Regions from separate parts of the Homo sapiens genome. Here all the other regions are linked to region 3. Evidence: fine-mapped expression QTL. A gene starts in region 3. Each other region holds a variant in brackets. All regions are shown on one strand. Distances are between the middles of the regions.

What was found. PIP is the estimated chance that this variant, and not a neighbour inherited with it, causes the effect. A credible set is the group of variants that fine-mapping cannot tell apart.
Region 1: its variant is the best candidate, but not a certain one, in a credible set for the expression of INPP5A in whole blood (INTERVAL, PIP 0.75).
Region 2: its variant is the best candidate, but not a certain one, in a credible set for the expression of INPP5A in spinal cord (GTEx, PIP 0.75).

The regions. Positions count from the first base shown.
Region 1 is chr10:132,671,685-132,681,383 of GRCh38, forward strand. The region is part of intron 4 of INPP5A (inositol polyphosphate-5-phosphatase A); the gene reads left to right. Among named protein-coding and RNA genes, the nearest start is that of NKX6-2, 110 kb to the right of the region's middle. The variant G/A (reference allele first, on the strand shown) is at 4,936.
Region 2 is chr10:133,309,330-133,319,028 of GRCh38, forward strand. ZNF511-PRAP1 (ZNF511-PRAP1 readthrough) reads left to right here. Exons shown (of 9, transcript NM_001396060.1): 2 at 61-134; 3 at 447-648; 4 at 835-959; 5 at 2,387-2,512. ZNF511 (zinc finger protein 511) reads left to right here. Exons shown (of 6, transcript NM_145806.4): 2 at 61-134; 3 at 447-648; 4 at 835-959; 5 at 2,387-2,512; 6 at 3,459-3,832. The coding sequence ends at 3,537. It also overlaps a transcript of TUBGCP2 not described here. Among named protein-coding and RNA genes, the nearest start is that of ZNF511-PRAP1, 5.3 kb to the left of the region's middle. RefSeq lists a silencer at 1-29 and enhancers at 1-368, 1-70, 4,738-5,007, 5,014-5,515, 9,213-9,442. The variant C/T (reference allele first, on the strand shown) is at 5,060.
Region 3 is chr10:132,532,963-132,542,661 of GRCh38, forward strand. It overlaps INPP5A (inositol polyphosphate-5-phosphatase A), which reads left to right and starts at 4,825. Exons shown (of 16, transcript NM_005539.5): 1 at 4,825-5,209. The coding sequence starts at 5,135. LOC107984282 (a long non-coding RNA gene) reads right to left here and starts at 3,961. Exons shown (of 4, transcript NR_158224.1): 1 at 3,764-3,961. RefSeq lists a silencer at 3,846-4,945 and enhancers at 5,726-5,775, 7,782-8,316, 8,317-8,851, 8,612-8,771, 8,782-8,911.

The DNA of each region.
Region 1 (9,699 bases), 140 kb after region 3:
GAGCTTCCTGATACTGTTTCATGTGCCTTACATGTGCCACCCATGCAGGGATCAGAGCAGCCCTATGAAGTGGGTACTGTTATTTGTCTTCCCCGTGTCACAGATAGAGATGTTGAGGCACAGAGAGGTTCAGGGACCAACCAGAAGAGGCCAATGTGGGATTTGAACTTGGTTCTGGCCTCAGAGCCTGTACTCTCAACCAGCCTGCTCTGCTCTCAGAAGGGGACAGCGCAGGAAAGGCCAGCTTCAGCCAGGGTGACGGTGGGGGTGGTGCTCAGGGTGGACAGCATTGATTAGAGGTGACTGTTGTCCAATATTCAGCTAAACTGTAGGTTTTAAAGCTTGAGGACAGGTTTCGTTAGAGGTCAAAATTCAGTAGTTCCTTTCCCAAGGATGTAGGGAGAGAACTACGTTTTGTTAAGTGGCTCTTATTGAGCATTGTGACATTCTTTTGCTAAAAACATGTTTGTGCATGTATACACTTGTACTAAGAAAATATCTTCATTTTATTTCCTTTTCCTTTATCATGTGACATAAGATTTATTCACTTCATATCAGCATTTAAGTATTGTCAACTTTATGAAATAATATTTGGGTTGGCGATTGGTTTTGAAATGTGAGGACAGGAGATCTGGGAGGGGTCGGGATGGAATAATATGGTTTGGCTGCGTCCCCACCCAAATCTCATCTTGAATTCCCACATGTTATGGGAGGGACCCTGCGGGAGGCAAGGGGATCATGGGGGCAGGTCTTTCCCATGGTGTTCTCATGGTGGTGGGTGGGTCTCATGAGATCTGATGGTTTTACAAAGAGGAGTTTCCCTGCACAAGCTCTTTCTTTGCCTGCTTCCATCCATATAAGATGTGACTTGCTCCTCCTTGCCTTCTGCCATGATTGTGAGGCCTTACCAGCCATGTGGAACTGTAAGTCCATATTAAACCTCTTTCTTTTGTAAATTCCTCAGTCTCGGGTATGTATTTATCAGCAGTGTGAAAACAAACTAATACAAGGTCTTTCCTAAGTTTGGAAAAACGTGATTTCTCATCTCTTCAAAAACGACTTCCACTCCCCCTCTGCATTCCCTCTAGGTTCCAGTTACATGTGCGTTGGACCCCACGCCTTCCACGCCCCACCCCACTCCCCTGGTATTGATGACTGCCTTCTTCTACTGTCCATTCTGTATTCCCTTTGCCTTCAGCATCACCTCAGCGGGTCGTGGTTTTTTTCCTGGTGGAATGTCCCAAACCTTCATTCCTGAGGGGTCTGGGTCACTTGTAGTCTTGCCTGGATTGGGCTGTTGTAGTTTCCCGTTGACCTTAATCACAAGGCATGGTAATACTATGGGACGCCCTAATGGATCTCCTGTATTCCATGTATACTCTTCCTTAGCTTCGTTGCAGAGTAGTAGACTGATTTCACCTTGATAGACCAGATCAATCACCCCAACAGTGTAACTCCTTTCTTAGCCTATTGACATAAAGGTAGGAGGAGCCCAGAGTATCCAGGTGACAATCTTAACTTCCAGTTCAGTGGGATTGCTGTTTGGTCTCGCGGTGGCAGCATTCTTCCCTCTGGAACTAATAACGCTAGGCCAGCAGAACGTAATGTTGCAGGAACAGGAAGCAAAACTTTTGCTAGTGGATCATTAGGGGTGATGGTGAGTGGTGCCACTTCCACTTCCACCCTTGATTCCCGGACCCGTGAATCCTGGCTATGGGAGAAACAGTATCATATATTGGACGCTGATTCAGAGCATCCATGGCCCTCTGGAGAACTTTGTCCCAGCCCTGCAAAGTATTGCCACCTAGTTGGTGTTGTAATTGTGACTTCAAAAGGCCATTCCACCATTCTGTCAACCCAGCTGCTTCAGGATGATGGGGAACATGGTAAGACCAGTGAATTCCATGAGCATGAGCCCCCTGCCACACTTCTTTAGCCATAAAGTGAGTGCCTTGGTCAGAGGCAATGCTGTGTGGAACACCATGATGGTGGACAAGGCATTCTGTGAGTCCATGGATGGTAGTCTTCACAGAAGCATTGCATGCAGGATAGGCAAACCCATATCTAAAGTAAGTGTCTATTCCAGTGAGGACAAACCTCTGCCCTTCCCATGATGGAAGAGGTCCAATATAATCAACCTGCCACCAGGTAGCTGGCTGACCACTCCAAGGAATGGTGCCATATCAAGGACTCAGTGTTGGTCTCTGCTGCTGGCAAATTGGGCACTCAGCAGTGGCCGTAGCCAGATCAGCCTTGGTGAGCGGAAGCTCATGTTGCCGAGCCCATGGGTACCCTCCATTCCTGCCATCATGGCCACTTTGTTCATGGGCCTATTGGACAATGACAGGGGTGGCTTGGGAAAGAGGCTGAATGGTATCCACAGAAGGGGTCATCCTGTCCACTTGATTATTTAAATGCTCCTCTGCTGAGGTCACCCATTGGTGAGCACTCACATGCGATACAAATATCTTCACAAATTTTGACCACTCAGAGAGGTCTGTCCACATACCTCTTCCCCAGATTTCTTTGTCACAATTTTCCAATCATGCTTCTTCCAAGTCCCTGACCATCCAGCCAAACCATTGGCTACGGCCCATGAATCAGTATATAATCACACATCTGGCCATTTCTCCTTCCAAGCAGAGTGCACAAGCGGGTGCACTGCTTGAAGTTCTGCCCACTGGGAAGATTTCCCTTCACCGCTGTCCTTCAGGAATGTCCTAGAAAGGGGCTGTCATGCTACAGCTGTCCACTTTCGGGTGGTGCCTGCATACCGTGCAGAACCATCTGTGAACCAGGCCCCGGTCTTCTCTTCCTCTGTCAGCTGATCATAGGGAACTTCCCATGAGGCCATCGGTGCAGGCTGGGGGAGAGAAGGGAGGGTGGCGGGAGTGGAGACCATGGGCATTTGAGCCACGTCGTCATGTAACTTACTTGTGCCTTCAGGACTTAATCAAGCCCAATCACATACATGCCACTTCCATTTGATGATGGAATGCTGCTGTGCATGACCCACTTCATGGCTAGATGGGTCAGAAAGCACCCAGTTCATGACATGCAGTTCAGGTCACACGGTGACTTGATGACCCATAGACAAACGTTCAGTTTCCACCAAAGCCCAGTAACAGGCCAAGAGCTGTCTCTCAAAAGGAGAGTAGTTACCTGCAGAAGATGGCAGGGCCTCACTCCAAAATCCTAGAGGCCTCCGCTGTGATTCACCTATGGGGACCTGCCAAAGGCTCCAAACAGCATCCTTATCTGCCACTGACACCTCAAGCACCATTGGATCTGCTGGGTCATATGGCCCAAGTGTCAGAGCAGCTGGCACAGCAGCCTGGACCTGTTGCAGAGCCTACTCCTCTTCTGGACCCCCTCAGTCCTCCATACCCAAAGTCCAGAAAGTTGGGAATCCCAGTGAATCCCTAGCAGCATCAAAAAAATAAAAACTCATACCCAGTCAGATTATAACAAATCAAGAAAACCATAGAGAGCATAGGGGTGTGCCGCAGTCACACTGACAGGCCACCTTCCTGTTCCTGCAGAAATGGTAACCGCAGGGGACGGTGCAGCCGCATCTTCCGTGTCCTTGGAGGAAATGTCAGCATAGGGTCTTACCCGGCAAAACATCTCCTAAGATTGAAGGTGAAATAGACATTTTAACTCAAATGAAAAACAGTAAGTACTAACGGATGTTCTTCAAGCGGAGAGAAAATGATCTCATATGAAGTCAGAGAGGAGAAAGGAATGAGACTCAAGGCAGTTGGGGGAAGCGGGCAAATGGCCATGGGCATTGGTTGTGTAAACCGAGGCACCTCCTGCAGTGTAAAACACGGAGAGAAGTGCGGTTGAGCATGGGGGTGGGTGCGTGTGGAGTGAGCGTTCCAGGGGCCTTGCCGTGCCCGGGAGAGTGAGGGTAACGGACATTCCCACGGGGATATTCCCACGCGGAGAACTGGGACCCCGATCAGGGTCTGGAGGGAGCGTGTGCCCTTGGAATACTGCTGTTTTAGCATTTCTGGGGACCGGGAACTAAGGTAAATTATTTGAAACAGAAGTAGATGGCAATTTCCTAATATAATGGACATTTAAAACTCAATTAAGGCTTTTGAGTAGAGTTTTATATGCCCTGAGCTTTTGTACTGGCAGAAGGTATTTTGTAAACAGCTTGTGTTCAGTGTTGGCCATCTCTTAAAGTGCATTTTACTTTAATTATTCTATATCCATAATGCACATAACCAGTTTCTCCAGAACATGTATACATGAAATGTAATTGAAAAGCTAATGATTTTTAGAAGACAAAAGATAAGAGTCAGAACCATTTTAATTAGGATGCAAACTCCTTACATAATTTAATTGGCATAAAAGTTTATTGATTTACTTGTATAATCATTTATACGTAGAAAAATATAACAAATTTCATAATTAAAACTAGTTATTTTAAGACTGATATTTTTCTTTGTTCATTATTGAAATTTTCAATTTGTGAAATATTTATTATTCAAAAAATAGCATCTGCGTTGCAAATGAATCTCATTTTGAGAGGAAGAGCTCTAGGTGATACAGGTTTAAAATGACTGGTAGGCACCCACAGGGAAACTAGGTTCCTCACACAGCCTCGTTTTTCATGAGACCTGCGGAAAGGCTCTGGGGCGTCACGTCTCCCTGTGGCCGAGGCTGCTGTTGTCTGGCACACCGTGAGTTCTGGGCCAGGACCTTTCCACCTGTCTCCCTCCACTCCGGGTGAAAGAGGCATGGGGAATTTACTTGCTTTTCCTTTTTGTCTGGCATCAGCTCGTGAAATATATTACATCAGACAAAAGTCAATAGAGATTTCCCTTTTGAAAAGCAAGGTCCATGATAATGGGCTGAACACAAGCAGGTGACTGTGTGGGACAGGGCTGCCCAAACCGCCGCTGGCCTACAGACTGCTGTCCC[G/A]GCCAGTGCTCCGCTCCCTGCGCCCCTGATGAGATGGCAGCCCTGGGCACCTGTGGCTGCTCCCTCCTCCTGACTCTGCTCCAAGGTGCCACCTGCCCAAGGTTCCGTCCTAGTCCCTGACCGGCCCCTCCTGTTTCCCCCGTGGCTCCTTGCCCCACTGACTGCTGGCTCTCACCTGCTCCTGTCTCTCCACAGTAGTAGCCTCAGTCCAGTGCTTGACCCTGCCCTTTTCTCTGGCTCCAGCTCCTCCTTGGCAAGCTGAGTCTTCCCCAGCTTTGAGGCCCATCCACATGGTGACCCCCACCGTCACCCAGGCATCTGTCCTCAACTGCAGACCCACAGGTATTCACATGGTGACCCCCACCGTCACCCAGGCACCTGTCCTGAACTGTAGACCCACAGGTATTCACATGGTGACCCCCACCATCACCCAGGCACCTGTCCTGAACTGTAGACCCACAGGTATTCACATGGTGACCCCCACCATCACCCAGGCACCTGTCCTGAACTGTAGACCTAGGTTCAGTCACCTTTGATGCCTCCCTGAGGTGTCTGAAGCTGTTTCAGCCTCTGCAGGTCCATGGCTGGACGCTGTCTCTCCAGAGCCCATCCCAGCTCACATTGGTCTTGGAGGTCCTGTGGATGCTGCCTGGGTGCAGAGCTGAACCTCCCCACTGGGGCTCCTCTGTCATGGCCCCCCTCACCACGCTGCCGTCTTGGGCTCTGGCCATCTGGTCACTCATGTATCTCACATGTCTGAGAACATATGTGGCACAGAGGAAGGAGAAAGTGCCGGGTGCATATTTGTGGAATGTGAGTGGTGACTGAATTCTCTCAGCAAGGGTGGGTGTCCTTAGACCGGCCAATGACTTTGCCCCCGCAGTGTGACAGAGAGCCCAGTGCTGGTAGCAGGCGAGAAGCCAGGACTGCTGGTCACCTTGCCGCCCTCAGATGTACCCCCTTTGGAGAAGCCTGCCGCAGGCTGTTTTACAGGCCATCTCGTTCCATTTCAGTTGCTCCTCACCGTGGTAATCGGAAATGTTAACGGGCGCACTCGTCTGGTGGAATTTATCGTGGCCAGCGAGGGCGATTAAGCGGCTGGTATGTGGCGTGTTTACCCTCGTGTCAGCATGACTGGTGTTCCACCCTGGCAGATGAAGGCCCGGTCCTTCCTGGGCTCCTAATTGGGGACACTACATCCAAGAGCCGTGACAGGGTTCAGCAACCCGCGTGCAGAATGCCGGCTTCCACGGGGCACGCTTTATAAAATGCTCTTTAATTCAGGAACAGAATATCATTAGCTTTGTAAAGTGGATGAATACAATGGACAACCAATTTAATTAACCTCTAGCGTCAGCTGTCGAACAGGAGGCAGAATGAGATTACGTGTGCATCTCTCCCGCCAGCAGCCAGCCGGGAGAGGGGCTCGGCAGGAGGCCAGACAGGGGGACACCTTGGTGCCGTCATCCCGTTTGGCCCCAGGAGCTGAAATTGGAAAGTCAGTGCTTTGTAAATAAGTCAGCTGTCATTTTGTGGTGGTCACGGAGCTCCTCTGAGAGCGGACGGTCACAGCCCCCCGTATGCTGCCTGGGGGTGGCACTGGGGGAAGTGGGCAGTAGTGAGGACGCCGCCTTGTCCAGTTGGGTCAGCCGCCCATGAGTTCATTATACAGGAAAAGATCAATGAAGCGCTACATTGATTTAAACAAAAGCTTTGTTTCATTTATTATTGTTTATAATCTAATGACTGTTATTATAACTTTGCTTTGATTTATTACTCAATCTGTTAAATTGTTTCAAAACAAGGTGTCTTGGGACTTGCCTTTGTGATAGGGTTAAATGTGTGACTTTTGCAAGTGTGTTCAGCTTCTCGGGAGCACCGTGAACCTGTGCCTTGGGTTGTGCTTTGAGACCTGAGCTGAGGGTTCTGTCCAGCGGTCCTGAGCTGCTGCTGCTCAGCCGGGCGCCCAGAGGGTGTGGTGCCTCTCTCATTGCCCAGGAGCCGTGGAATTCCTGCCTGCCGTGACCTGGGCATTGTGGTGGAGGACTCAGAGGCGCCCAGGCCACATGCCTGCCCTCAGGGGGCTTCCCTTCCCTGAAAGAATTTAGATGAGGAAACCAGTGAGTGCTGGAATATGCAGCACCTTGAAGGAAAGGCTGGGGACTGGGACTGCCAAGCCTCTGCCCAGAGTAGCCAATCAAGAGGGCTGCTTGGAGGAGGCTGCATTTCCACAGAGACCTGAAGCAGCAGGGGGTCCATGTGAGAAGCTGGAAAAGGGGAGGCAGCAGAGGTACCCTCCTGACAGAAGGGCGCAGCCTCCTCAGGCCCAGATGGCCAATGGGGCTGGAGCTCTGTCAGCTGGGTGTGTGAGGGCCAGAGGACAGCTGGGGTGGCCACTGTGCAGGACGTGGCTGGGAGGAAGTGCAGTGGCAGGCCCAGAGGTGCATGTGGAAAAGGCCACCTTGGTGCCCGGTGGAGAAGAGACCAAGGGGGCTACAGCTGTGGAGGAGGCGGGGGCCCCACAGGGAGATGAGGGAGGTGGGTGTGCAGCAGTGCAGAGACGTGGAAGGCTAGAGATGGACAGGGTTCTGTAATCCGTAGAACCTGTGGAAGGAAGGGATGTTTGGGTGAGGCATATGGACAAGATGCTGGAGGAATCTGGAGAGATCCGTGGTTTCCAGTGGGAGCTGGAGGAGGGTGAGGGTGGAGTAGGTCTCCAGTCCTGAAAGGTCGGACTTGTCACGGGAGACCCAAGTGGAGACTGTGCAGCCGCCGGGCCAGGAGGCTGGCCTTTAGGAGGCTCCATGCTGTACACACAAGAGCTGCCCGCTGGAAGATGGGACAGACGGGCCACCCCAGCGGGAGGAGGAGGTGGAGGAGAAGGGCTCGTAGGGTACCCTGAGCAGATCCAGAGTGCTGTTATTCCCAAGTAGGAGGAGGAGATCCAGGGAAGGAGAATGTGGAGTCCCGTAGCCTAGAAGTAACAGAGTTTGGAGGAGGGTGGAGGGCGTGAGAAGGTGATGAGACAAATAAATAATTCTGGATTATATTTAAAAATTAAAAATCTACAAAATGAGACAGGAAAATGGGCAAAGGATACAAAGAGTTCACAGAAGAAACTTAAATTGCCAATAATCTTAAAAAGAGATGCGCCAGACACACAGACCATGGAGCAGAGGGGACAGCCAGGAGGCACCCTGCCTGGGCAGCCAGGTGGTCTCTGACAAGGGTGCAAGAGCATTCCATGGGAGAGGACAGCCTCCAGCCAGTGGTGCTGGGACGCTGATACCCACACGCAGAAGAATGAAGTTGGCCCCTCACATTACATTGTGTACAAAGTTAACCCAAAATGAGTCAAAGACCTAAAACTATAAAACTTTTAGAAGAAAACATGGGCCAGAACCTTCACAACATTGGATTTGGCGATGATTTCTCAGACGCAGCACCAAAGGCACAGGCAGCAAAAGAAAAAAGAGACAAATTGGACTGCATTAAAACACAACCACTTTGTACAGCCAAAGACAACATCAACAGAGTAAAAAGGCAACCGTGGAATGGGAGAAAATATTTGCAAATCAAAAATCTGATAAGGAATTACTATCCAGAATATATAGAGAACTCCGAAAACTCAACAACAGCAACAACAAAAACCAACCTGAGTCAGAAAGGGGTTTGAATAGGCGTCTTCCCTCCAAGGACGGCGTGGAGACGGCCGATAAGTACACGAAAAAGCGCCCAGCTCCACGAACCTTTAGGGAGATGCAGATCCAAACTGCCATTTTCATTTGTCAGTTTAAAAGGACTTGCAAAATACCTTATACCCATTAGGATGGCTGTTGTCAAAAAGCGCAGAAGATAGTGAGAGGTGACAGCGTGCTGGCAGTCCTCACAGCCCTCGCTCGCTCTCGGCGCCTGCTCTGCCTGGGCTCCCACTTTGGCGGCACTGGAGGAGCCCTTCAGCCCACCGCTGCACTGTGGGAGCCCCTTTCTGGGCTGGCCAAGGCCAGAGCCGACTCCCTCAGTTTGTAGGGAGGTGTGGAGGGAGAGGCGCTAGCGGGAACCGGGGCTGCGCGTGGCGCTTGCGGGCCAGCTGGATTTCCGGGTGGGCGTGGGCTTGGCGGGCCCCGCACTCCGAGCAGCCGGCCGGCCCTGTGCAATGAGGGGCTTAGCACCCGGGCCAGCAGCTGCGGAGGGTGTACTGGGTCCCCCAGCAGTGCCCACCCACCGGCGCTGCACTCAATTTCTCGCTGGGCCTTAGCTGCCTTCCCGAGGGGCAGGGCTCGGGACCTGCAGCCCGCCATGCCTGAGCCTCCCACCCGCTCCGTGGGCTCCTGTGCGGCCGGAGCCTCCCCGACGAGCTCCGCCCCCTGCTCCAGGGCGCCCAGTCCCATCGACCACCCAAGGGCTTGAGGAGTGCGGGCGCACAGCGCGGGACTGGCAGGCAGCTCCACCTGCAGCCCCAGTGCGGGATCCACCGTGTGAAGCCAGCTGGGCTCCTGAGTCTGGTGGGGACGTGCAGAACCTTTGTATCTAGCTCAGGGATTGTAAACGCACCAATCAGCGCCCTGTCAAAACAGACCACTCGGCTCTACCAATCAGCAGGACGTGGGTGGGGCCAGATAAGAGACTAAAAGCAAGCTGCCCGAGCCAGCAGTGGCAACCCACTCGGGTCCCCTTCCACACTGTGGAAGCTTTGTTCTTTCGCTCTTTGCAATAAATCTTGCTACTGCTCACTCTCTGGATCCACACTGCCTTTATGAGCTG
Region 2 (9,699 bases), 780 kb after region 3:
CTGACGCGGTGGGCGTGCCGCGAGTCACCTGGCCCCGCCCACGGCGCACTTTTCCTGCAGGATGGGGACGTGCAGCGCCACCTCTACCTCCAGGACGTGATCATGCAGGTGGCCGACGTGCCTGAGAAGCCCAGGTAAGCGAATGGGCAGTGCCTAGCCAGTGCTACTCCTGCGCCGCCTCCCTGACCGGTGCCTGGTCCCTGGGGCTGTGCTGCCGCTCTTCCATGTGCGGCCGCCCCACCGAGGCGCTGTGCCTGTCCAGCTTTGGCGTGGCCGACTCTTCCACCACCTAGCCTGTTTGTGAAACTTAATTCATAAAAAGAGGGTTTGGGATTGCAAAAGATGCATAGGGGCTTTATTGGACGTCTCAAAGGGAAACTGTGCAGAAAGTCCAGCTTGGTTCCTCGCACCGGAGGAAGGGCTCCTGAAGCACGTCTCCTTGGCAGGGTGCCCGCGTTTGCCTGCCAGGTGGCCGGCTGCTGCCAGGTGTTCGATGCCCTGGACGACTACGAGCACCACTACCACACGCTGCACGGAAATGTTTGCTCCTTTTGCAAGCGGGCCTTCCCTTCCGGACACCTGCTGGACGCCCACATCCTGGAGTGGCACGATTCGCTCTTCCAGATCCTGTCTGAGAGGCAGGACATGGTGGGTGACAACTGCACAGCCGCCGAGGCCACCCCCCATTGGTGATGGGCTCAGAGTGCTGCCCCCAGCTCTCGGGTGCTCGGGCAAGGCCGGGGACACCTTTCCGCCCTTGGCAGCTCTGCTACGGGGGCATGGCGGTGGGGGAGGGCCAGGGGTCAGAGGGAGGTGACACGGTCTCCATTTCAGTATCAGTGCTTGGTAGAAGGCTGCACAGAGAAGTTCAAGACCAGCAGAGACCGGAAGGATCACATGGTGAGGATGCACCTGTACCCCGCGGACTTCCGGTTTGATAAGCCAAAGAAAAGCAGAAGGTAGGGAGCCGCCAGGCTCAGCACGTGTCTGCTTTTGATTTTAGGAAAAGGTTTCCAACTAGCCGGAATGCATAGACGGTCAGACTTATTAAGCACTTGTGTGTCACCTAATGGGGTGTTCACCTGCAGGTACCTGAAGCCCTGGCAACACAGCTACAGGTGGTTGTGCCAGCGGCCACCCTGCCGAAGGGAGGCTGGAGGGGAGCCCCTGGCTGCCCAGCTCTGTGCCGGTGGAGGCAGCAGAGGGGGTGTGGGAATGAGCGGGCGCAGCGCCTCCGCACTCACACCCCTCTGGGCCATGCCTGTACCTCCTGCAGCAGTCGGCCGTGGTCATCCGCACTCACACCCCTCGGGGCCGTGTCTGTACCTCCTGCAGCCGTCGGCCGTGCTCACACATCATGCAGCCCTGGCTTTCCTTTTGTCCTGGTTGGTTGTGCGCATATGAACTTGATGACAAAGCTGTTGATTAACATGTTCCTGCCTAGAGTGCACTCTGGGAAATACTTCCAGGAACAATCTTTTTTTTTTTTTGAGACAGGGTCTTGCTCTGACACCCAGGCTGGAGTGTAGTGGTGTGATGTAGGTTCACTGCAACCTCCACTTCTCAGGCTCAAGCGATTCTCCCACTTCAGCCTCCTAAAGTGCTAGGACTACCAACACGCATCGCCGCACTCGGCAAAATTTTCTATTTTTTGTAGAGACAGGGTCTTGCTATGTTGCCCAGTCTGGTCGTGAACTCCTGGGCTCAAGCCGTCCATCTGCCTCAGCCTCCCAAAGTGCTGAGATTGTAGGTATGAGCTACCATGTCCAGCCGGAACAATTTTTAAATTGTGTTATATTTCTTCTTTTTTTAACTGATGAGGTGAACTTTCATAATCATCTACAATTTTATTGATCAGAGTTTTTCAGACTCTACATTTTCTCAAGTAGTAATTTGCTCTTTAAAATAAAAGAACTGGGAGAACCCACTGCAATGTGGGAGGCTTTACAAAGACTTACGTGTAAAGTAATTGTCTCCTTTCCGAGGGATCATTTTAAGGAGAAAAACCGTGCAATGCTGGATTAAGACATTCGTATTATGGAAGAGACTAGTTTATAGTCTCTGGTTAACTTTAGCAAATTTCTCACACTCATAAAAAGACCCGTGGCACCGTTGGCACCATAAAAATACTATTTTCAAAAAAAAGTATGATTGTTACAGTTAAGTTTATAAGATGCAGACTCTATTATATAAACAATGGCCTTGCTGTAATCATTCTCCTTTTCCCAGTATCTTAAACCACACTATAAAATCAGACTATGCCAAAATAGTAAGAAAATATGCTACTTACAGGGAAATCCAGTTTCTTTCTTGCATGTTCATTTCTGGGGAACACAGGGGCTGTGGGAGCCGTGCAGGGCAGTTACTCACTGCTCTCTCCCCGCAGCCCAGCCTCAGCAGAAGCCCCAGGGGACAGTGGAGAGCGGTCAGAAGGGGAGGCCATGGAAATCTGCTCTGAGCCTGTGGCAGCCTCCCCTGCACCGGCAGGTGAGAGGCGGATCTACAGACATAGGTCAGTGTCTGAGCTCTTTCTGAAACCCGTTCTCAACATGTGTTCGGTGCTGAGGATTCTGGGCTGCACCTGGGCCGCAGCTCTTCTCATACTGAATTCAGAAAGGTAACGCTGGGTAAGAAAATCGGCTTCCGCCAGAGAAGAAAGTCCAGATATCTCAGGTCCTGTGAATAACTTAGTTTCTCTCGCATACTCTGTTTTTGAGCCATTGAAGCGCAGGAATGCCAAGCACCACTCACTTTTCCTCATTGTCTGAGTGGGATGGAAAGAGTCTCACTTGCAGTTGCTTCAGTCACAACCCAGGCGTCTGCCTTAATAGCATCACCTGTGCCGTCTGCGTTTCTAGCGTCACCTGTGCCGTCTGCGTTTCTAGCGTCACCTGTGCCGTCTGCCTTCCTAGCATGACCTGTGCCGTCTGCCTTTCTAGCATGACCTGTACTGTCTGCCTTTCTAGCGTCACCTGTGCCGTCTGCCTTTCTAGTTAAAGTTGATTTTAAATTAATTTGGGAAAAACGGTGAACAAGTGGGGAAAAACATCACCAAAGACTCCAAACAGGTGGAACGATGAACTTAATGTTCCCTGCACCCTCCTTACAGATGCCTGGACTTTGGCCTGTGAATGAGCCCCGGGGGGCTGGGACAGTAGGGGTTTTCATGGAATGGACATGGGGTAGCAGGAAGTCTCAGCCCCAGAGGGCTTGGCAGGAGCCGCCCTCTCTGCGGAGTTCTTCCCAGCGGGTGTGCGTTGGTGGCTGGCGGGGACCCCCCACAGGAACTAGGTCTCAGGCTGTGGAAAGGGAGCTGCCCCAGGGCCCAGGAGGGCCGGCTCTGCATTCCGCATGTTCCCAGAGTGAAAGAGAATGAGAAGGAGACACACAAGTGCTGTTATGACCTGGGTTGTTGGTTGGCAAATACAGCATCTAATAGAAACTTTCTTCCATCCCAGAATACCCTCTACCATCTGCTTTGGTCAGGGTGCCGCTCGAGGATTTAAAAGCAACAAGAAGAAAACCAAACAATGCTGATAGACTCAGAAAAGGAGTGGGGGGCAGTCACCACTGCTGGGCGTGGCATCCGCCTTGGGCCTTTCTCCGACCTTCTGGTGTGGCCGCCCTGGGGGCCAGGCCCTCGCCATCCTCCCCATCCTTGTTCCTCAGCAAATGGCATTAGCAGCTGTCATCAGAAGCTGTGAGGGACCCACAGATTTTGGAAACGACCTGGACACACTATTGGGAAGGAGATGTGGACGGCCTGTCTCCTCCTGCAGGGCCCACCCTAAGAATGTATTTTTAAACACATGAAATAAGTATTTTTCACTGATGGTCTTGAGTCTTCATTTCTGTGTTGAGTCAGGTGCGGAGTGGTTATTGTTACCCATGGGTATTCTGTTTTCCACCCTCAGTTTTCAGGAAGATTTATAAAGTCCTGGCACCCCTCAGAGGTGGGTGATGGGGTAGGATACAGCACTCCACCTCGTCCCGGACCTCCTGGCTTTGGGAGCCACACCCAGTTGTCCTTGCCACACCACTTAGGGAGTAGACCTGGTGGGGGTAGGATCTGATGCCCACAGGGAGGGGCACTGGCTCTGGGGGCATGGGGTGCTTGGGGGTGTGTGGGATGCTGGGGGAGTGGGGGGTGCTGCCCCAGAGGGTGCAGGATCCATCACTAGTGCCAGCGGGGACCACAGAGCCTGCATCAGGAAATGCAGGCCAGGAGATTGGGGCTGGCATTGGATTGCAGAGATACACTGGGGGCAGTGTGTCCTGGAGAAATCACTCTGTTTTGATAAAATTAGGGCGCTCAGAGACTCCCGACCACGTCTTCCTCCAGCGGCCCTGTTCCCACAGCATGTGATATAGGCGGCAAGCCACCCAGGTGCCAAGGCAAGAGAACGAGGGCACGAGCTGTTCCAGTATAACAAATATATAAAATAACAGGAGTTATACTAGATATATGTCATAGATATGATTATATATGTATCACTAATCATTAGTTTGTAGTAATTATTCTTTATTCCAATATTATAATAATCCTCACTCTACAATCATAACCTAGGAAAAACCAGGCCATACGGAAATAGGAGCTGAGGGGACATAGTGAGAAGTGACCAGAAGACAAGAGTGTGAGCCTTCTGTCATGCCCGGACAGGGCCACCAGAGGGCTCCTTGGTCTAGCGGTGACGCCAGCGTCTGGGAAGATGCCCGTCGCCAAGCGGACCGTAGTCTAGTGGTAACGTCAGTGCAAAGGAAAAGCACCTGCTACTTAGCAGACTGGGAGAGGGAGTCTCCCTTTCCCTGGGGGAGTTTAGAGAAGACTCTACTCCTCCACCTCTTGTGGAAGGCCTGATATCAGTCAGGCCCGCCCGCAGCCATCTGGAGGCCTAACCGTCTCCCTGTGATGCTGTGCTTCAGTGGTCACACTCCTAGTCCGCTTTCATGTTCCATTCTGTACACCTGGCTCTGCACTTTAGATAGCAGTAGCAAAATTAGTGAAAGTACTAAAAGTCTCTGATATGCAGAAGTAATGGCGTAAGCTGCCTCTCTCTCT[C/T]TGCCTCTCTGCCTTGGCTGCCAAATGACGAAGGGCCCCCTGTCCAGTGGACACGTGACACACGTGACCTTACCTATCATTGGAGATGACTCACACTCTTTACCCTGCCCCCTTGTCTTCTATCCAATAAAAGTGCAGCCTGGCATTCTGGGCCGCTACCGGTCTCCGCGTCTTGGTGGTAGTGGTCCCCCGGGCCCAGCTGTCTTTTATCTCTTTGTCTTGCGTCTTTATTTCTACGATCTCTTGTCTCTGCACACGGGGAGAAAAACACACAGACCCTGTGGGGCTGGTCCCTTCATGTGACTGGTGTGCTCCTGGCCCCCTGCCCCTGGCATTGCCTCACAGCCCACTCCTTTTGGGGCTCTGGGTCTGGCTGGAGGCAGTGGGTGGTCATCTGCAGCTGCTGCCCAGCTCCACAGGATGATGCTGAGAGCTCTCCAGCAACCTGGAGTCAAGGAATCTCAAGGGCCTCAGGTTCAGAGCTGACATGGCACAGTGCTTCGTGCTCTGAAAACTGAAGGCAGGTTCCCAAGCACTCAAGGGAAGACACTAAAGCCTGAAGCCCAGGCCTGGGTGCATCAGTGAAGAGAGGTTTCACACGCACATGTGTGGGGTGGGAGATGAGCACTGGCCGAGGGTGGCTGTGGTGGGGCCGCCCGGGGCCTGTCGGCTGCTTGAGAAAGCACAACACAAGAAAAATGCAAACACGCAGATTTACTGCTGGTTCTCCATCTCCCTGAGAAGATCCTGCCCCAGCCCGTTGAATCCTCTGGCTCTTGCGTGAGCTCCCTGCACAAGGCCAGCAGCACAGCCCTGGCGGCAGCGCTCCACGAGGATGTATTAGCCCTTTCCACAACAGCAGATTCTGCTAAAACTCTTTTGTTCACAGCAGGACTGTTCTATACCCTTCGGGGACTGTTGGTCCTGGCTTCCAATCCTAGCTTCATCTCTGCCTGGAAGCGATTTGTTTATTCTGTCTCAGTTTTTCTTCTGACAAGTGGGGAGTGTAAAACTTCGGTATGAAGAATGTTACTGTTTTGTTTCAAAGCCAGCATCATAACTGTACGTGGGCTGCATCCGTTTCTAAGAAGATACTCATGTTTCTTTTCTTTCTTTCTTCTTTTTTTTTTTTTTTTTTTTTTTTTTTTTTTTTGAGGCAGGCTCGCTCTTCTTGCCCAGGCTGGAGTGCAGTGGCATCATCCTGGCTCACTGCAACCTCTGCCCCCTGAGTTCAAGCGATTCTCCTGCCTCAGCCTCCTGAGTAGCTGGAATTACAGACACACAACATCGTACCCAGCTACTTTTTGTATTTTTAGTAGATACAGGGTTTCACTATGTTGGCCAGGCTGGTCTCGAACTCCTGACCTCAGGTGATCTGCCTGCCTCAGCCTCCCAAAGTGCTGGGATTACAGTCATGAGCCACCACGCCCGGCAGAGATGCTCGTGTTTCAGCTGCAAGACCTGTGAGAGCTGAAGCCAGCTGGACTTCCTGGGTCGAGTGGGGACTTGGAGAACTTTTGTGTAGCTAGCTAGAGGTTTGTAAAATGCACCAATCAGGGCTCTGTAAAAATGCACCAATCAATGCTCTGTAGCTAGCTAGAAGTGTTTAAAATGGGCCAATCAGCACACTGTAAAATGGACCAATCAACACCCTGTAAAATGGACCAGTCAGCGGGACATGGGCAGGGACAAATAAGGGAATAAAAGCTGCCCCTTCCAACACACACACACAACCCCCTCCGCCACCCAGCCAGCAGTGGTGACCCTCTGCTGTTCACAATAACTTTTGCTGCTGCTCACTCTTTGGGTCCATGCCATCTTTAAGAGCTGTAACACTCACCACGAAGATCCGCAGTTCCATTCTTGAAGTCAGCAAGACCACGAACCCACTGGAAGGAACCAACTCCCGACACACCTGGAAGTGGCTTCCAGGTTGCAGCTGTCAAGAGGACTCAGACAAGGCACAGGATGGAACAACTGCACTCCCCAGACACAGAGACGGAAAGGCCACACACCCCCAAGACATAGAGATGGAAAGGCCACACACCCCGAAGACATAGAGATGGAAAGGCCACACCCCCCTCCCTGGACACAGAGATGGAAAGGTCGCACCCCCCTACCAAACACAGAATGGAACAGCCACACCCCCGCTTAGGACACAGAGATAGGAAGGCCGCACCACCCCTCCCCCCGACCTGGACACAGAGATGGAAAGACCACACTCCCCAAGACACAGAGATGGAAAGACCATACCCCCCCAGGACACAGCGATGGAAAGACCACCCCCCCCCCCCCCCCCCCCACACACACACACACACACAAACAGATGGAAAGACTGCACCCTGCCACAGGACACAGAGATGGAAAGACCACACCCACCCCCCAGACACAGAGATGGAAAGACCACCCCCGCAAGACACAGAGATGGAAAGACCGCACCCCCCCAGACAGAGAGATGGAAAGACCACACCCCCCACAACAGGACACAGAGATGGAAAGACCACACCCACCCCAGACAAAGAGATGGAAAGACTGCACCCCCCACCAACACAGAGATGGAAAGACTGTATCCCCAAACACAGAGATGGAAAGACCGCACCCCCCCTCCCCCAGGACACAGAGATGGAAAGACCACACCCCCTCCAGACGCAGAGATGGAAAGACCACACCCCCCCCAGACGCAGAGATGGAAAAACCGCACCCCGCCACACACAGAGATGGAAAGACTGCACCCCCCCTTCCCAAGGACACAGAGATGGAAAGACCGCACCCCACCCCAGACACACAGATGGAAAGGCCTCACCCCCCCAGGACACAGAGATGGAAAGACCACACCCTCCCTCCCCCAGGACACAGAGATGGAAAGGCCGCACCGCCCCCAGGACACAGAGATGGGAAGACCACACCCCCCCCCAGACACACAGATGGAAAGGCCTCACCCCCCCAGGACACAGAGATGGAAAGACCACACCCCCCCTCCCCCAGGACACAGAGATGGAAAGACCACACCCCCCCAGGACACAGAGATGGAAAGACCACACACCCCCTCCCCCAGGACACAGAGATGGAAAGACCACAACCCCCATCCCCCAGGACACAGAGATGGAAAGACCACACCCCCCACACACACAGAGATGGAAAGACCACACCCCCCCCAGACACAGAGATGGAAAGACCACACACCCCCCCCAGACACAGAGATGGAAAGACCACACCTCCCCCCCAGACACAGAGATGGAAAGACCACACCCCCCCCCCCCAGACACAGAGATGGAAAGACCACACCCCCCCCCCCAGACACAGAGATGGAAAGACCACACCCCCCCCCCCAGACACAGAGATGGAAAGACCACACACCCCGCCCAGACACAGAGATGGAAAGACCACACACCCCCAGACACAGAGATGGAAAGACCACACACCCCCCCCCCCCCAGACACAGAGATGGAAAGACCACACCTCCCCCCCAGACACAGAGATGGAAAGACCACACCCCCCCCCCAGACACAGAGATGGAAAGACCACACCCCCCCCAGACACAGAGATGGAAAGACCACACCCCCCCCCAGACACAGAGATGGAAAGACCACACCTCCCCCCCAGACACAGAGATGGAAAGACCACACCCCCCCCCCCAGACACAGAGATGGAAAGACCACACCCCCCCCCAGACACAGAGATGGAAAGACCACACCCCCCCCCAGACACAGAGATGGAAAGACCACACACCCCGCCCAGACACAGAGATGGAAAGACCACACCCCCCCCAGACACAGAGATGGAAAGACCACACACCCCCAGACACAGAGATGGAAAGACCACACACCCCCCCCAGACACAGAGATGGAAAGACCACACACCCCCAGACACAGAGATGGAAAGACCACACCCCCCCCCCAGACACAGAGATGGAAAGACCACACCTCCCCCCCAGACACAGAGATGGAAAGACCACACCCCCCCCCCCAGACACAGAGATGGAAAGACCACACCCCCCCCCAGACACAGAGATGGAAAGACCACACCCCACCCCCCGAGGACACAGAGATGGAAAGACTACACCTGCCCCCCAGACACAGAGATGGAAAGACCACACCCCCCACCCCCCTCCCCCCGGACGCAGAGATGGAAAGATGGCCGCATCCCCGGGAACACGCACAGGTGGAGAGGCCAGGGCCCAGCTGTGCATGGACGACTCCGAGCTGAAGTGCAGCCGTGGGTGCCAGTGCCGGTCTCCGTCCTCCTTCACAGGAAACACGGAGGCCGGGGCCGCCAACCCCGGTCCCTTCATCCTCTGGCCCCTTCGCCCGCTCCTCACACGGACGGGCTGTGCCTGTGTCTGCTCCACTGGCAGCCGGTCGATACCCCCGGGCGTGCGGAGATGAAGACCTCAGGCGACCGACCGCCGTCCTCCCCTTTCCCCGCGGCCCAGGTCGGCGTGTCTGGCTGCAGCGCCACCTCCTGGAGGCGTCAGCACCCTTCTCCGCTGGGTGTCAGTTCGGACACTGTGGAGGGACGCGCTTGGAGGATGTGGGCGGCCCCGCGCGGAGCGGTGCAGAGTCGGCGGTTGTGGTGGTCCTGGCCCAGCATCCAGGCCTCGCATTGCCAGGGGCAGGCGGCTGGGAGCCTGTGGGAGGAGG
Region 3 (9,699 bases):
CTGCAGACAATTATCTTGAGTGAGTCACTTAACCTCAGTGTTTTTATATGCAATGGAGTAAGTCTGACCCACCCGGCAGGAGTACTGAAGAGCGATGATTATTAGACGCTAGAAATGCACTTTACGGCTGCGCAGTGCTAGACGCAGACATGCCGCAGGGCACCTTCTGAATCTGCTGTGGACATGCATGAGGGATGCTGGCTGGAAGCCTCTGATAACTATGAATCCATAAGCAAATTGGTTACTGTCTTAAACGAAGTAACAATGTGATATTTAGTGCTGTCCTTTTTAAAAAGCTCGCAATATATTGTTGTCTAATAAAAGTCTTGGGCCGAATTTCCCTCCTGGGAGAACAAGAGCTTTGGGCCAAGTGGCTGACCAGGTTGAAGAGGGTTGGCAGCTGCTGAGGAATTCATCCATGGTAGGAGGAGGAAAATCGGGCAGGCTCTGCTCCCCATCTCCCTCTCTGCTCCTTGCAGACTAGGTGGGCCCAGGATCTCCTTAAGCCAGGTAAGTAGGTCTTTAGGAAACTCGTTATTATTATTATTTTGGCAAAGGAGCAAATACACGGGGCAATATTTCAAGGGTGAAGAAGGGCACACAAGGGAGAGGCATCCTCCCTCTCACCTGGTTTCATGAGTGTGGCTTTTAACACAGGTGACACAAGTGGCCAATGTCTTTCTGAACATAGGAGAGCCAGGCCCCGGGCACAGTGACAGGTCTGCCATGCCCATGCAGCGGTCGGCATGCTGATATGATCTAAGGTGAGGGCCCAGCCAGGTCAGCCGGGAGAAAGTGAACACAGGAAGGGCACACCCAGGACCCCAGGGCCCCAGAACTCAGGTGAGCATGAAGGGAGCCAGCAGAGGAGACTGGGGGTGGTCAGCGCAGTTGGGAGGGAAGAGCAGGAATGCCACAGATGCCAGGGCAAGGCTCACTTCCAAGAGGCAGCCAGTGGTCAACCGTATTGGAAGGTCAGCTGCAATCAGGCCTGGGGGGCTGGCCCTTGAATTAGGATGCCCCATGGGGTGTGGGCATGAGAAGCACAATTCGAGGGCCTGGACAAGAGTGGTCCATTGGCATGCGGGGCAGAGATGGGCAGACTTTTAGGACAAGGTTTGCAGCAAGGAGAGCAGAGAGGGGGGAGGAAAATGGAGGGGCACAGGCTGGAGGCTTCCAGAGATCTGAGAGACCGCAGCATGCTTGTGAACTGCCGACGTGACCCAGGAGGGGGTGGCCTTGGGCGGGGACAGGCACCTCATTCCATGTAGCAGCATGGAGGATGTGCAGGACAGACACCAGATGCTGGATGTGTTGACTTAGTGGCGTGATCACAGTCAGAATCCAAATGGAGTCACTGGTATTAAAAACCCTGACATATAGACTGTGGAAGGGCATGAAGGGAGGGTTCTTATGCAGACATGCTTGATAGCAAGAACAATCACAAAAGACTGCAAAAATCACAGCCGTGCACAAAGACCATCACAACTTACACACACAAACACTTCTGGGAAGACATCTGCCCAGTAGCTGCCTGTCCAGCCTCAGACTGGCACCATCCTTCCTGGAGATCCTTGTAGCCAAGGATCATTGATTCAAAACAATGATGTAATCCTCCTGTTTCCTTTGAAAATCTTTGTCTTCCTTTACCTTCCTTGACCCACACCCAATTTACGATGGCACACATATTCTATTGCAATGAATGTTCCCGAGTAAATCTCATTTTCTTTTAGAGAGCCTCTCTCTGTTATTTAGGGTGACAGTGGGAAAATCCCAGACTGCAAATCCTTCCTCAACAAAGGGCAAACGTTTCCTCCAGGGAGCGTAGTTGGTGGTTAGAGAAGGGGAAGGCTGCAGTGGCCTCTTGGAGTGGTGGAGTGCACATGCGCAGAGCCAGGAGGCCTAGTGCTCAACGTGGGTGTGCCTGAGACCTGGGAGATGCCAGGGGCATGGAAATAAGGTGTTGTCTAGTTTTTCCCCCAATTTAGTTTTCTCTAATTTGGGCGCAGGTTCACTGTAAGCAAGTAAATCAGTCCTGGGGGCCAGCTGGGTGAGTGCTGGGGGGCAGGGAGAGGGGAGGGAGTGGGTACACAAAGTGATTCTACCCTCAGAGAGAAGCAGAGTAAGGCAGGAAGAAGAGGTGTGCACATGCGTGGTCATGTGTGCACGTGTGCATGTTCGTGCATGCGCATGTGCAGATGTGTGTGCGTGCAAGTGCATGCGTGTGCATGTGTTTCTGTGTGGGTGTGCACGTGTGGCGGTGGCTAACGAAGGCATGGGAGCAGCATGGGCTGTAGGTTTCCATGAGGTCCCACGGAAGTGAAACCAAAGGAGAGGAGGTGGTGGGGAGGGCAAGGTGCCTGGATTCGGCCTTGGTGTGGTCATTGGTGATGAGAACATCCAGGCTATGCCCAGGGCCGTGGATGCAGAAGTGGGAGGTCCAGGCCGCACCCCCTTGGGTTCTGGAGGTTCTGGTAATGAGCACGGAATATAGGAGGCAGGAGAACTGTGAGGGGCTGAACCTGTGGTGGGTGAGGGGTGCATGGGAAAGAGGAGGTGGCTGCCTGGAGGAAGGGCAGAGGCCAACGTCCAGGCATGGCAGGAGCTGGCTGGCGAGGAGAGGAGGAGGGGGGAGCAGGGAGGGCACAAGGGGTGGGGGACGCTGCCTCAGCCGGGTGTGAGGGCACAGCCTGCGGGGAGAAGTGAGGAGGCAATGTCCCTTCTCAGAAAGCACGTTCCAGGGATCAGTGACACCCCCACATTTGGTTTCTACTAAGGGTACCCTTAGCATGTGCTGATTTTGTTAAAAAGAAAAATAAGCGACTACATCAGTCAGCTTCAGCTGCTGTAGCGAAATATCACAGGCTGGGAGGCTGAAACAAGACTTTTACTTCTCACAGTTCTGGGGGCTGGAAATCCAAGATCAAGTTCCAGCAGCGTTGGATTTCTGGTGCAGGGTTTGTGGCTGGCTGGGGTGAAGCTTCCCACTGTGCACTCACACTGCCACTTCTTTTGCACATGTAAGGGTGGGGACAGCACTGAGCCCTTTCTATTAAACACTAGCCCTATTGCACGACTTAACATTAAACACCAGCCCTACTGCACGACTTAACATTAATTACCCCCGCTAGCCCACCTCCGAATACAGTCACATTGGAGGTTAGGGCTTCAACCCATGAATTTGCGGGGTGGGGTGGGGTGGGGCGGGCGGAATTCAGTCTGTAGCAGGCACCTACTGACTAAAGTAGACATTGGTTTATACATCAAATGGATTTTGCTGGAGTCCTGCTCAGCGGTGGCCGTAAGGAGGAACCCTGGGGGTGTTAACACAAGCCAGTGATGCGGCCTCAGCACAGGCCTGGGGCCCGAGCCTGCAGCACCATTCCTGCCGCCCCGCCCTGGCAGCAGGTGTCTTCCTAGAACAGAACAAGCCCCTTTTGATGTCATTGGGCATTGCCTTGGCGGTTTACTCAGAAGCTGGAGGCTAGCCTCGCTAGAGCCCATTGCCAGGCCCTGACCGCCCCTAAATCTGTGTCCACAAAATCCTCCGGAGTGCCTGCTCCGCATGGTGGCCACTGGCCACACAGGGCTGCTGAGCACTGGAAGCGGCCTTGTGAGCTGCTGCCAAGAGGCAGGTGCCCGTGCAAAGCCTTCCTGTGAAGGAATCTCACTGAGGTTGTTAAATTCTGGTTACATGTTGAATGATGTATCTATCTATTGGGTTAAGTAAAACGTATTGTTAACTTTGGCTATTACTTGTTACCTTTAAAAAATGTAGCTACTGGAAGCTTTAAGATGACAAATGTGGTTCTCCTCCTCCATCTACAGGCATGTCCCGGTTCACGGCGGCTGTGTCCCCGCGGCCTCAGACCCAGGGTCCAGCCCATGCTCTGGCCCCTCCGGCGGCCAGGATCAGCATCGCTGCCCCGGGGCCCGCGCCGAGCCGGCTGCTCCTCCGTGCTCTGCGCTCCTGGGCCCGCACCAGCCCCCTCCCCTGGAGCCCCCTTCGTCCCTGCGAGGGTTCCCTGCACGCCCCGCGCTGAGACCCAGCCTGGCCCGGGCCGGAGCCCTCCGCGACGTCAGGATGCGCCTGGCCTCACGCCGCCTCCCCTCCGTCTTCTCTGGGCCGCAGCCGCTCCTCGTGAGTGAGGTCGCGGCCAGGGAGCCGGGTGGACGCGCCGGGAAGCTGCACGGTCCACGCTCCGTCTGCGCGGAGAGCCGGGCGCGCGTGGCCCGGCCCCTGCAGGCGCGACTGCCGCCGCCCCGGTGGGCTCCCCTCCCCCGCACGCCCGGCACGCGGCTGGACGACTGCGGCCGCGCGGGGGCTGGAACATCCCCTCAGAGCCGCAAGAGAGCGCACCCGCCGCCGGCGCCCGGAACCCAGGGCCCCTTTAAGAGGCGCCGCCGGAGCAGGGCCGTGACGTCATAGAAGTGCGAAGGGCGGAGTCTGTGCGCAGCCGCGGCGCGGGGGGCGGGGCGGGGGCGCGGCGTTCTTGCGGGCCTGACTGACAGGAGCGCCCTCCGGGAGCGACCAGTACTAGGCCGCCGGTCGCAAGAGCGCCCCGCGTAGGCCCCGCCCCGAAAGGAGGCCCCGCCCCGGGGCAGGCCCCGCCTCCACAAGGACACCAAGTCCCGCACAAGCCACGCCCCCCGCAGGCCCCGCCCCACTCTGTTCAGATCTAGGCCCAACTCAGGCTCCGCACCTCAAGGCTCCGCCCCCAGCAAGGCTCCGCCCCAGGCCCGGCTCCACCCCGCACAGGCCCCACCCCGAGTCAGGCTCCGCCCCGCCCAGGCCCCGCCCCGGGCTCGGCTCCGCGGGGCGGGACTTGCCCTCAGCCTGAGTCGGCGGCGGCTGCGGGAACTTTCCCAGCGGATCTAATGGCTGCGCGCGGGCCGCTGTGAGGCGCGGCGGCGAGCGACGGGCGCGGGGCCGCGGAGCAGCGAGCGAGCGAGCGAGCGCGAGGCCGGAGCCCCGGCCAGGCCCGGCCGACCCGCCGAGCCCGCGATGCGCCCCGGGGCCGCCCCCCGGCGCAGCTGACGCCCCGCGGCCCCGCGAAGACCCCGGCCGGCCGGTCCCGGAGGAAGCGGCCGCCGCCGCCGCCGCCCAGCCCAGCGCCCGCGCCGCCCGGGCACCATGGCGGGGAAGGCGGCCGCCCCGGGCACCGCGGTGCTGCTGGTCACGGCCAACGTGGGCTCGCTCTTCGACGACGTAAGTCCCCCGTGCCGGCGGCAGGCCCCAAGCCCGGAACCCCCGACCCTGACCCCGGGGTCCCGAACTGCAAGCCTTGGACCCTGGACCGTGAACCTCCAGACCCAGAGGCCCCAGACTCTGATCCCTGTACCCGGGACCCCAGACTCCTGTCCTGATTCCCAAGTCTGGGAGCCCAGACCCCTGTCTTGATCCCCAAGCCCGAGACCTGAAGACCTGGGCCCTGAATCCCCGAACCCCATCCTCCAGACTCCAGCAGCTGACCGTTGACCCTGGGACCCTGCCTCTGAACTCCTGTCTGCAAATCCTGACCTCGAAACTCCAATATTAAAACCCTGTCAGAACCCCTGTTAACAGTTCCTGGAACCCAAACCCCAGAAACCGGGTCTGTGCGCACCAAACCCAGCCCCAGCCCTGATTTCCGAATCCTCAGAACCCTGGCCCTGGAATGCCCATCCCCAACCCTGGCCCTGAACCCCAGGTCCATGGTCACTGGAACCACAAATCCTGACTGCAGAACTCTGGTTACAGAACCTGCTCTCAAACGTCTGTCTCTGGTCCCTGAGCCCTGGACCCCAAACCCTGAAACATAACCACAAACCCTAACCCAGGAACTTCTGACACAGGGCTGTGGCCCCAACCTCCTGTCCCTGTTCCCCAATCACTGAATTCTAGCCCTAGAATCCCAGCCTTCATACTGTGGCCCTTTGCCTCTAAAGCCAATCTAGCCTGACTCTGAACCCTGAATTTCAACCTCAGGCCCCAGCTTATGGCCCTGAACACTTGTCCTTGACCCCTGAACCTGGAACCCTGGTTCCAGAATCAGGCCCCAAACCCAATTCTGGACCCTGCCCCTAACTCTGGTTCCTAGATCCCATCCTTGGCCCCTTCCTCCAACAAGCTCCTGCCCCTGAATCCTGAATCCTGAATCCTGGTCTTAAAGCCTGGGCCTTGAGCCTGCAGAATTCCCAAACCCTAACCCTTGACTCCCACCCCTGGCCCCTGTCCTCTGAGCCTAGGCCCTCCACTCTGGCTGTCAGCCCCAGCTCCTGGATGCCTGGGTGCCGGCCTCACTGTCTGTCTGTCCCTGCAGGGCCAGAGGGTAGGGTGCCCCCATTTAACCCTGCCACTTAGTATCTCTTTAGTTCGTAAATAAGGGAAGTCTGTAAAGCACTGTAGGACTTTATATTTCTTGTTTATTGAAGAAAAAGATGCTGAGAAGCTCTTCAGGGCCAGAAAGGGGATGCTGACTGCCTATGGCCTTTACCTTCTAGGGCCCCTCCCACCCAAGCCTCATTCCCACCCAGGATCCCAGGGTGCCCCCATCTCTGGAGAGACCAGGGAGCTGAGGCCCAGGGCGCACTGGGAGCTCCCCAGAGGCAGGCCGGTCTGACCTAGTTTGGCGTTTCAGCCACGGTGCCACCCTGCTGTTGGTACTCCTGCTGCCAACCCAAATAAAGCAGAGTGAGGCTCCAAGTGGCCCAGATGGAGGCCGTGGAGCCACGGACGCTCCCTCCCTCCCTCCCTCCCTCCCTAGGTGAACAGTGGGGCACCGCACCAGCTTTATGACGGATGTGTGCCACTGATGCACGCGTGGTTTCCATTTCAGGAGGAGGTCTTGTGTCTTTGCTGGCAGCAAGCATGGGTGAAGTGTTTGATGAAGCTCAGTTCATGCACAGGCTAGGTTTGGTTTTTATTAACAAAAGGCGCTGTTTTTCTGTTTTTCTTATTTTAACTTCCAGGTGCCCATGTATTATACTGACCTGCTGGGGAGGAACTGGTTTTCCTCACACTTTATTATTAACAACTTCATCTAGGTTTATGTTTGATCATTTTCTACAAAAGTGCCTGGCATGGGTGTGTGTCTGTATATTTGGCGTTCTATTCTAGGCTTTCCAGTAACATGTCACTATAGCATGGTTTTGTTCAGATGATTCAGATCCGTTAGCTGCGGCTTCAAAGCCTCAGAAATGTCAGGAGCATTAAGCTTGCTGGGGCATTTTAGTCTCAAAGGGAAACGAGTTTTACTGTGCAGACATTCTTTCCAGTAATCTTTGATTCTGAGTTCTAGCATTTTTGTTGTGTTTCAATTGTATACACGTATTTATCTCTGTTGATATTAAATTGGGTAACTTAATTCACTTTTGTTTAGCAACCTATTCTCTCTGAATTTTCATTTTTCTTAAAGGCTATGTGGAATTTTGCATTATGTTTATGTTTAGAAGGAACATTTGTTTAGGTCAACAGTACATAGGTTAATTCTGAAAGGTGCATTGTGATTTCAGGGCTGAGTGGAAACTTATCTGTCCGTGTCTGAAGATTTCTTAATGTGTGCAGCTCAGTCCCCGGGGGCCAGACCCAGTCTCCTTCAGTGGAAACCAGCCAGGCACTCACATTCCCAGGCCCCCTTCCTTGGTTGAGGTTTGGGGTGTGGTACTTGTGGGCCAGAAGCCTGGCCGGTGGAAGGAAATTCATGAGTGAAGGAAGTTTTGGTTTCTTGGTTTGTCCTGGATTTCAGGGGACCTGCTTTGAGATTCTGTTTGCCTTTGTGCAGCCCGTCCCGTGCTGACGAACGCACCCTGCAGGCAGTGCTCAGGCTGTGAAGGAATCTTTCTCGCCCAGTCTCACCGTGTTGGAAGCCAAGCTCGTCTGTGACCAGTGCTGGAGCCGGTCACAGTTCCGAGGAGGAAGGTGTTTGAATCTGAAGCAGATATCCCGGACTGTGGCGGACTCTGTTTTCCTTTTGTGCACAAGTGATAGGTGGTTTGCTTTTGCTTTTGCAGTTTTGAAAGTCTCCCCTCTTAAGGCCCCTCCTCCTCCCCCTCTTGTTTTTGTTTTAGACAGGGTCTCATTCTGTCGCCCAGGCTAGAGTGCTGTAGTGGTGCGGTCACAACTCACTGCAGCCTCGACCGCCCTGACTCAGGTGAACCTCAGCATCCTAAGTAGCTGGGACCACAGGCACATGCCACCATGCCTAGCTAATTTTTGTAGAGACCAGGTTTCGCCGTGTTGTCCGGGCTGGTCTGGAACTCCTGGGCCCAAGCAATCCACCTGCCTCGGCTTCCCAAAGTGCTGGGATTACAGGTGTGAGCCACTGTCCCTGGTCCAGAGGTCACCCCTCTCAAAACGCTGCGTGCATCCACTTCAGCTGTGGTTTGTAGCATCCTGGGATCCACACGGAATCTCACTCAGCAGCCCCTGTTTGCTCATCACTACTCCATCTTTGTGACCCCAGATTGGCCATGCTGCGGGCTGCGGGGCTGTCCCCACTGGGGTTGTGTCTGACCCTGTGCAGACAGTGTTGCGGTAAATGCCTTACAGTGTACCGGTCCCCAAGCCCTTATCCCTCACTTTCCTAGAAATTATGGAGGACCCGAAAGAGTTCTTGTTTATGTTGGTTATAACTACCAATATTTCTCATATTGGGAGCTGAGACTGCATGAGAATACATAGCTCACTGCACTAGCTGGCAGAGCGATTACATCATCCCACATCACAGGCACCCCCTCAGGTGTTGGCCGTTCTTCCCTAGGAGACAGTGAGAATGGAAAGAGGAGTCATTTTGTAGTATTATGGAAATAGTGTTGACCTAGTCAACCTGTGAAAAGGCCTCCTCAGCCCAGTCCTCCCTCCCCATACTGTCATGGGCACCCCTGTCTCTGGCCAGGTGGCTGGGGTGCCTGGGACTTTCCCAGGCTTATGCAGACTGCCAGATCACCCTCGGTGAGCCCTGCAGCTGGTCTTTAATTCCTGGATTGGACTCCTGCTGTCACTACTGGTTTGCTTGGAAAGAGGTGACCAGGGGTCCATATTTAATTGTTTTGCTTTGATGTGGCTGGTTTTTTGACAAGTGAGGTTTCTGGCTTTTGGTTCCTTCCATTTTTATGAGAAGGGAATTGAGGAGGTGAATTCTTGCCAGCTGTGGCGTCCCACCCTTGCATGGTCAGGCTGCTGTTTGGTCCTGAGAACACAGCCCGCTGGCGGGTATCTGCCTGGTGGCCCTTCCTGCTGCTTGTTCGCAGCTAAGTCAGTTCTGAGCCAGTTTGCCTTTTTGCTTAGTCAGCTCCCGGGCAGCCCTGTCCCTCTGCCCAGACCCGGGTTTGCAGAACGGCTGTGAGAGTGGGCTCGGCAAGTGCTCGCTGGCAGGGACCTGAGCACCTTGCAGTCAGCAGGTGTTGAAGAGCCCTGGAAGAGCGTGGAGGTGGCGGAGCTGCTGTGGGTATGGAGTCGGTGATGGTCAGTGGTGCAGGCTGGCGTCTCTCTCTGGTAGCATCAGCATTGCCTTCTTTGCCATGTGGTTCCTGGCAACACCAAAGGTACTGCCCTCTCTCCCACCTTGAAAACTCTGAACTCCATGTTTCCTCCAGCCACTGCGGGGCATCCTGACTCTCTACCGTGGCAGCCCTCGAGTGGGGTGGGGGGGTCTCCCCTCCATGTCCTTCTCCAGGCCTCTGCCCCAGCACTCCTGCACAGCAGGGCCCAGGGCTGGG